2 linked regions of the Homo sapiens genome follow. The protein of the gene in region 1 interacts with the protein of each later gene in a biochemical or structural test. Each region holds a gene or a part of one and is shown on either strand. Other genes may lie near its edges.

Region 1 (3,836 bases):
CTACTCGGGAGGCTGAGGCAGGAGAATAGCTAGAACCCAGGAGGTGGAGGTTGCAGTGAGCCGAGATCGTGCCACTGCACTCCAGCCTGGGTGACAGAGTGAGACTCCATCTCGGGGGGAAAAAAAAATGCTTGCTAAGTAAAAGTTCATAGCTGCAGTCGTAGGCATTCAAAAATGTTGGTTGAACAAATGAACACATAAATGTCTCCAAAGTCCTAGTGCCATTTCTACCAGACCAGATAGCAGTATTATAAATTCTCTTTCTCCCTCTCTCCAGCACACACACACACACACACACGCACACACACACACACACCCCAGACACCAAACCACTTTTATAAATAAGTTTTGAAAAATTCCGTAGCTTTTCCAAATTATAGTTTTTAAATGGATGTTAAGCAATTACATAAAGTGACTAATCTTAATTTTAGTGGAATCTTACTAAGAAATGAATATAAATAATGTCCCTTATTGTTTAGCAATTTACCATAACCTTTTCTAGCTATATTAGAAGAAATTCATTTACATTTCAATATTCAGTAGCCTATAATAGATATTTTGTAGACATAGTTTAGCTTTTACTATGAACCTTTTTATTTATAAAATAAGAGATGTTTTTGTTTGAAAAAATTTTTGTTCCATTCTTGTCATATTTCAATCACTTGGATGTATCCTACCTTTTTCACTTCCTCTTTCCATGAGCTATCATTCAACTTTCAGTTTCACTGACAGGGCATCACGTTCCTTCCTCCACATTCTCTCTCTAAACACCATGTTTTGCTTCATTCCGACAAAGCCTAAGCTGGGTGCAGTGGGTCACCCCTATAATCTCGGCACTTTGGGAGGTTAAGGCAGGAGGATTGCTTGAGCCCAGGAGTTCAAGACCAGCCTGGGCAACATGGTGAAATCCCATCTCTACAAAAAAATTTTAACAATTAGCCAGGTGTGGTGGTGCACATCTGTAGTCCCAGGTGCTCAGGAGGTTGAGGCAGGAGGATCACTTGAGCTCAGGAGGTCAAGGCAGGCTGCCACTCCAGCCTGGACAACACAGCGAGATCTCGTCTCAAAAAAAAAAAAAGCCTGAAGGTTATGAATTAGTTTTAAGTCACAGGCACTGCACTATTGCTGCAATAAATGTTGATGAAGCTATCAAACTGCTGCATCTACTCGGAATGCTAAGTAAGCTCTGCCACATCTAAGTATGAAAAACTAGAATGCTTAAAACAGGAAGGGAAAACACTTTCTTAGCTGTGGAACAAAGTATCTGAAATATGCAAAGAACAGTTTTACACCATAACCAGCTTTGTCTATCACAGTGGAAACAGTAACTGAAAAGTCCTGCTATCAATAATCAATATACAGCTTGCATGGAGCACCATCCTTTTTTTTGTACACAATTGGAACTACTCTTCACACTGAAAATGTTTGTTAAACAAAAGTCATGTAATTACAAATTACTGAATATAATAGACAGTAGTTTTTTATAATTATTCAGCAAATAATGCCCATTATATAAAATACTGAATAACTTTAAAAAGTATACCTAATGCAAATTTACATGAGTAATAATTTTATATTAAATATACAACTGTCCTCTATTTAATTCTGTTCACTTAAATTACAATACTTCCTTTACGTGCCATGAATAATTATACTTGGAAAAAAATGAAGTCATTTAAAATGGAGTTAAAATAGTTTGGTTCAACACAAGGACAACCTATGTAGTGCCATCCTCGTCAAAACACTGCAGAGGGAGCTAGCCCAGCTCTGAAAATATTTACTTAATACATAATGCAGTAATGTCTCACATCTCCCAGGGTCATGCTTCTTGCAACATCAATACTGAGGAAATAGCTGAGGACCCAACAGTAAACCAAAACAACCAACAAGCAGCAGAAAAACTAAACTGCCCTAAAGCCCACTGGGCAGGCTACACTGGCCTCTGTTTTTGTTTTGTTTTGTTTTTTGAGACAGAGTCTTGCTCTGTCACCCAGGCTGGAGTACAGTGGCACAACCTCGGTTCACTGCAACCTCCACCTCCTGGGTTCAAGTGATTCTCCTGCCTCCACCTCCCCAGTAGCTGGGATTAGTACCTGCCACCACGCCTGGCTAATTTTTTTGTATTTTTTAGTAGAGACGGGGTTTTGCCATGTTGGCCAGGCTGGTCTCAAACTCCTGACCTCAGATGATCCACCCACCTCAACCTCCTAAAGTGCTTGGATTACAGGTGTGAGCCACTGCGCCCCACCTGTTTTGTTTTTTATACTTTTTTCTTTTTAGAGATGGGGTCTCACTACATTGCCCAGGCTGATCTAGAACCTCTGGGCTCAAGCGATCCTCCCACCTCAGCCTCCCAGTGTTGGGATTACAGGAGTGAGCCATCACACCCCGCCTAAGGTCTTTGTTGTTGTTGTTTTTTCTTTTTACATAGTATTCTGTCAACCTCAGTTCTGGGTTCCTTAGTCGTAGCAAATCTAAAACAGCAAATTAGGAAAAGAGGCAGATGAGGAGTAAGAGCATGCCCATAGCAATACGAACTAACAGCAAGGAAAGAATAAGCACAACAAAAACAGAAAGGAAATCTATAAAATGTCTAACAATATAATCCCAACTATATTATACACTCTGCACTGAAATAGCAATTACAATTCCAGGCCTACGCTAAAATAGGAAACCTAGTTATTCTGTGCCTCATTTTCCTGTTCTGGATAATGGTCATACACTATAACATGTGTTTAATATAATGTATTTGATAAGCCTTTATGTTTTTTAAAAAATGGCATTTGAGGCTGAGTGCAGTGGCTCATGCCTGTAATCCCAGCACTTTGGGAGGTCGAGGCAGGCAGATCACTTAACGGCAGGAGTTCGAGACCAGCCTGGCCAACATGGTGAAACCCCATCTCTACTAAAAATACAAAAATTAGCCAGGCGTGGTGGTAAATGCCTGTAATCCCAGCTACTTGGGAGGCTGAGGCAGGAGAATCGCTTGAACCTGGGAGGTGGAGGCTGCAGTGAGCCAAGATCCTGCCACTGCACTCCAGCCTGGGAGACAGGCTGTCTCAAAAAAAAAAAAAATGGCATTTGAATATTCTTTTCTGGTCATAAAAGAGATACATTGTATCAAGAATTTGGAAAATACTAAAAGTATAAAGAAAATTAAAATTGCCTATAAGCCACCACCCAGAGATAGCCACGATTTACATCTTGGTGCTTTTTTTCAGGTGTCTTCATATTTAAATATGTACATATACCTTTTCCTGGTAACTTTTTTCTTTTTAACCTGGCATTATTTGTGGGCATTTTCCACACTCAAAAAGTCTTTGTAGAATTATTTTACATATCATAATTTATTAACCCATTATTACAGATTTGGGGTAGTATAAAACATTTTATACAGTATACTATATATTATACTGCATACATGACAAACTGTTTAAAAAGTGATCATTTATAAGGTTTAGATACAGAAAGGGAATTTTCCAATGGAACTGTTTATCAATAAATTACCCCCAAAAAGATTTGTAAGTTGTGGTTTGCAAAACTAGATTATCAAATACAATACTTAAGTCCAGTGAACAAATGAGACATTTGCAGAATGAAGTCTCAGATAAACTTTGGAAAATGATCATTTAAAGTTGTTTCTGATGCCAGCAATATGGATTTCACATTAAGAGAATTCTAGATTAATGTTATTAAATTACAACCGTGCTAGGAAAGTAACACTTATTAATGACTCATTAATCATTCTGTTCATTCATTAAGCAAATATGTATGAATAACTATTTGAAAGGCATTATATTATGGTGCATTAATATCAATAGTAAAGCTTTCTTAGT
Region 2 (3,724 bases), on another chromosome or scaffold:
GAACCATAGGCAGATAAGCTTATACCTGGAAAAGTCCAATACTATTTATGTTTAATTAAAAATACAAACACAGCGGACAAAGAAAATTATCAGACAGTACTCATTACAATGATCTAGCCCACTGTTTAGTAATCTTTACATCTTACAAATTTGGTTAATCACTGAAGACTGTGAACTCTGATTTGTGTTAGATTAGCCAAAAGGATGCCTTTGTGTCAAATATAGAAAGTTAGAGGACAGAACTCTTTAACCTTCCCCAGGTTCTAATAGCAATGGATGAAACTTACTTAAGGTCAAAAGAAAATGACATCAAAAGAACAAACACTAGAAGCCAAGGAAAGGTGAGAGGAAGCAAGAGATCTGCACGTGTCAGTAAGACGGACGTCAATAAGCTTCAGAGGACTACATAATAGTCCTCTGAAGTATGATCTATTACCTGGTAATAAGAGCTCCCAACAGTGGGAGAACATAGAAGGTTTTTTGGTTTTTTTTTGAAATGGAGTCTTGCTCTGTTGCCCAGGCTGGAGGCAGTGGCGCAATCTCGACTCACTGAAACCTTTGCCTCCTGGGTTCCAGCAATTCTCCCGCCTCAGCCTCCCAAGTAGCTGGGATTACAGGCATGGGCCACCACACCCAGCTAATTTTTGTATTTTTAGTAGAGATGGAGTTTTACCATGTTGGCCAGGCTGGTCTTGAACTCCTGGCCTCAAGTGATCCACCTGCCTCAGCCTCCCGAAGTGTTGGGATTACAGGCGTGAGCCACTGCGTCCGGCAAGAAGTTTTTGAGATAAATGATGTACTAGTTCTTCAGGGGTGACTTCCAGGAAAGGAGCTGCGTAAAGCCCTCACTCACCTGAGTGATTATGCGTTCTCCATCCTTATAGATCTTCTCTCCTATTACATCCACAATCTTCATTCGTTCTGACACCTGAAACAACAAATTCACAAATAAAAGGAAAAGACCTTAATTGAAAGTCACAATAGCTATGCAGCACAGAAATAGGATTAGAATAGTATGATTTGAAAACCTAACAACAGAATAGTTTTAAAAGCTTTTCCTGATCCCCATGAACAGATTCTTATTCAAGCCACTTTACCTCTAGTGATTTAAGGAGGGGCACAGACTCAATAAATGATTCAAACATCTTCCTCTTCTTTGCATTATTTTTCACTATGATTCTTCTAAAAGTCACCCGGTCCTACAAGAAAGAATATGAAAATTCTAGTAAATGCCTATATACAGGAACATCTATGGTTTAATTAACTGGCCAAAGCAAATATTAGAGGAATATGTAAGTTACTGTGTTAATTAAGTGTTTAATGATACTTCAATCTTGAGTCATCACTGGAAGTAAAGGACCTATAGCCTGAGCCAGCCAGATGCCCACATGCTGTTGCTTGCTATCTAGCACTCAATAGGTGCCACCTATGGGTCATAAATAGAACCCAAAACAGAAAACACCTAAACATTTATGAGCTCACTGTCACTGTTCAATATCAAAAAAGACACCTCTAGTGAGCCGAGATCATGTCACTGCACTCCAGCCTGGGTGACAGAGTGAGACCCTCATTTCAAAAAAAAAAAAAAAAAAAAAAAAGAGACACCTCACCAAAAGAGAGAATAAAACAATCATTTAATCCTTAGAATCCAGGATTTAAAAAAACTTAAAAAATCCAAAACAATTAGATTGTTCTTGCCTAAAAAAAGAACAATTAGATTGTTCTTACCCTAAAAAAGTTTACAATCTTAATGGGGAGATAATATAAAATATCAAAATATGAAGGTTGGCTGAATGCAGTGGCTCACTGCCTGTACTCCTAGCATTTTGGGAGGCTAAGGTGGGCAAATTGCTTGAGCCCAGGAGTATGAGACCAGCCTAGGCAACATGGTGAAACACGCTCTCTACGAAAAAATACACAAAAAAAGTTAGCTGGGCATGGTGGCACTTGTCTGTACTTGGGTGGCTGAGGTGAAAGGCTCACCAGAGCCTGAGAGGTCAAAGCTGCAGTGAGTTGTGATTGTACCACTGCATTCCAGCCTGGGCAGCAGAGTGACACTATGTCCCAAAAACAACAATATCAACAACAACAACAACAACAACAAAATACATAGGAATAAAAAGTCTACATTTCAAGGACAGGTGCAGTGGCTCACACCTGTAATCCCAGCATTCTGGGAGGCTGAGTCAGACAGATCACTTGAGCTCAGGAGTTCAAGACCAGGCTGTGCAACATGGTGAAACCCCATCTCTACAGAAAATACAAAAATTAGCTGGGCATGGTGGCGTTTGTCTAGTCCCAGCTAGTTGGGAGGCTGAGGCTGGAGAATCACTTGAGCTCAGGAGGCTAAGGTTGCAGTGAGCTGAGATTGCGCCACTGCACTCCAGCCTGGGTGACATAAGTTGAAACTGTGTCTCAAAAAAAAATAAAATAAAAATAAAAAGTCTACAGTTCAAGACAGCATATGAGCATATGAAATGTGCTTGATGAAACTACAGAAGACAAGTGCCACATAAATTTCAAGGTAAGAAGGGGAGATCACAGTAGGCAGGAGTGATCAAAGATTATTTTGCAGCAAAAATGTCTAGGACCTGAAAGAGAGGTAGGATTTAAGTTAATGGAGAGACACGGGAGGAATACGCAAGATGGAAGGCAGGCATATGAAAGATACCTTGACTCTAGCAAGTCATGGATTCCTTCTGTTTTATTTTGAGATAGGGTCCCCCAATGTTGTCCAGGCTGGCTTTGAACTCCTGGGGTCAAGTGATCTCCCCACCTCAGCCTCCCAAGTAGCTGGGACTACAGGTACACAACACTGTGCCTGGCTTAGTAAGTAATGGATTCTGATCAGAAGACAGTTAACCAAACCAGGCACTTCTCAGATATGTGTACACATGTGCAGGGAGATACATGTGAGAATGTTAATTGCTTAGTCTTAGATTCCTAAATGGGCAAGCAGTTATTTGTATCTAAGTTAACTACCTTTCTTCCACCTCAGGCTGTCAGGACTATACATATATACATTTTGTCAGAAAGTATAATAATGGGCTGGGCGCAGTGGCTCACGCCTGTAATCCCAGAACTTTGGGAGGCCGAGGCAGACGGATCGCTTGAGGTCAGGAGTTCAAGACCAGCCTGGCCAATATGGTGAAACCACATCTCTACTAAAAATACAAAAATTAGCCAGGCATGGTGGTGGGCGCCTGTAATCCCAGCTTCTTGGGACGCTGAGACAGGAGAATCACTTGAACCTGGGAGGCAGAGGTTGCAGTGAGCCGAGATCATGCCACTGCACTCCAGCCTGGGTAACAGAGCGAGACCCTGCCTCGAAAAAAACAAAAACAAAACAATATTTTAGGCTGTGTGTGGTGGTTCATGCCTGTAATCCCTGCACTTTGGGAGGCCAAGGCAGGAGGATCGCTTGAGGCTAGGAATTCAAGACCAGCCTGGGCAACACAATGAGACCTCAACTCTATTTAAAACACAAAAACAGGCTGGACGCAGTGGCTCACACCTATAATCCCAGCACTTTGGGAGGCTGAGGCGGGTGGATCACAAGGTCAGGAGATCGAGACCATCCTGGCTAACACAATGAAACCCCGTCTCTACTAAAAATACAAAAAATTAGCTGGGCATGGCGGCACGCGCCTGCAGTCCCAGCTACTAGGGAGGCTGAGACAGGAGAATCGCTTGAACCTGGGAGGTGGAGGTTGCAGTGAGCCAA

Evidence for each region. The genes of interacting proteins can lie anywhere in the genome.
Region 2: the proteins of AKAP9 (region 1) and PRKAR2A interact in a test that uses a peptide from one of them, tested with the Homo sapiens proteins (one study listed by BioGRID).

Annotation. Positions count from the first base shown.
Region 1 is NC_000007.14:91,943,638-91,947,473, reverse strand, and holds part of AKAP9 (A-kinase anchor protein 9), read right to left. Parts: intron 1-3,836. UniProt on the Homo sapiens protein: Scaffolding protein that assembles several protein kinases and phosphatases on the centrosome and Golgi apparatus. Required to maintain the integrity of the Golgi apparatus. Required for microtubule nucleation at the cis-side of the Golgi apparatus.
Region 2 is NC_000003.12:48,764,151-48,767,874, forward strand, and holds part of PRKAR2A (cAMP-dependent protein kinase type II-alpha regulatory subunit), read right to left. Parts: intron 1,200-3,724; coding exon 1,098-1,199; intron 929-1,097; coding exon 854-928; intron 1-853. UniProt on the Homo sapiens protein: Regulatory subunit of the cAMP-dependent protein kinases involved in cAMP signaling in cells. Type II regulatory chains mediate membrane association by binding to anchoring proteins, including the MAP2 kinase.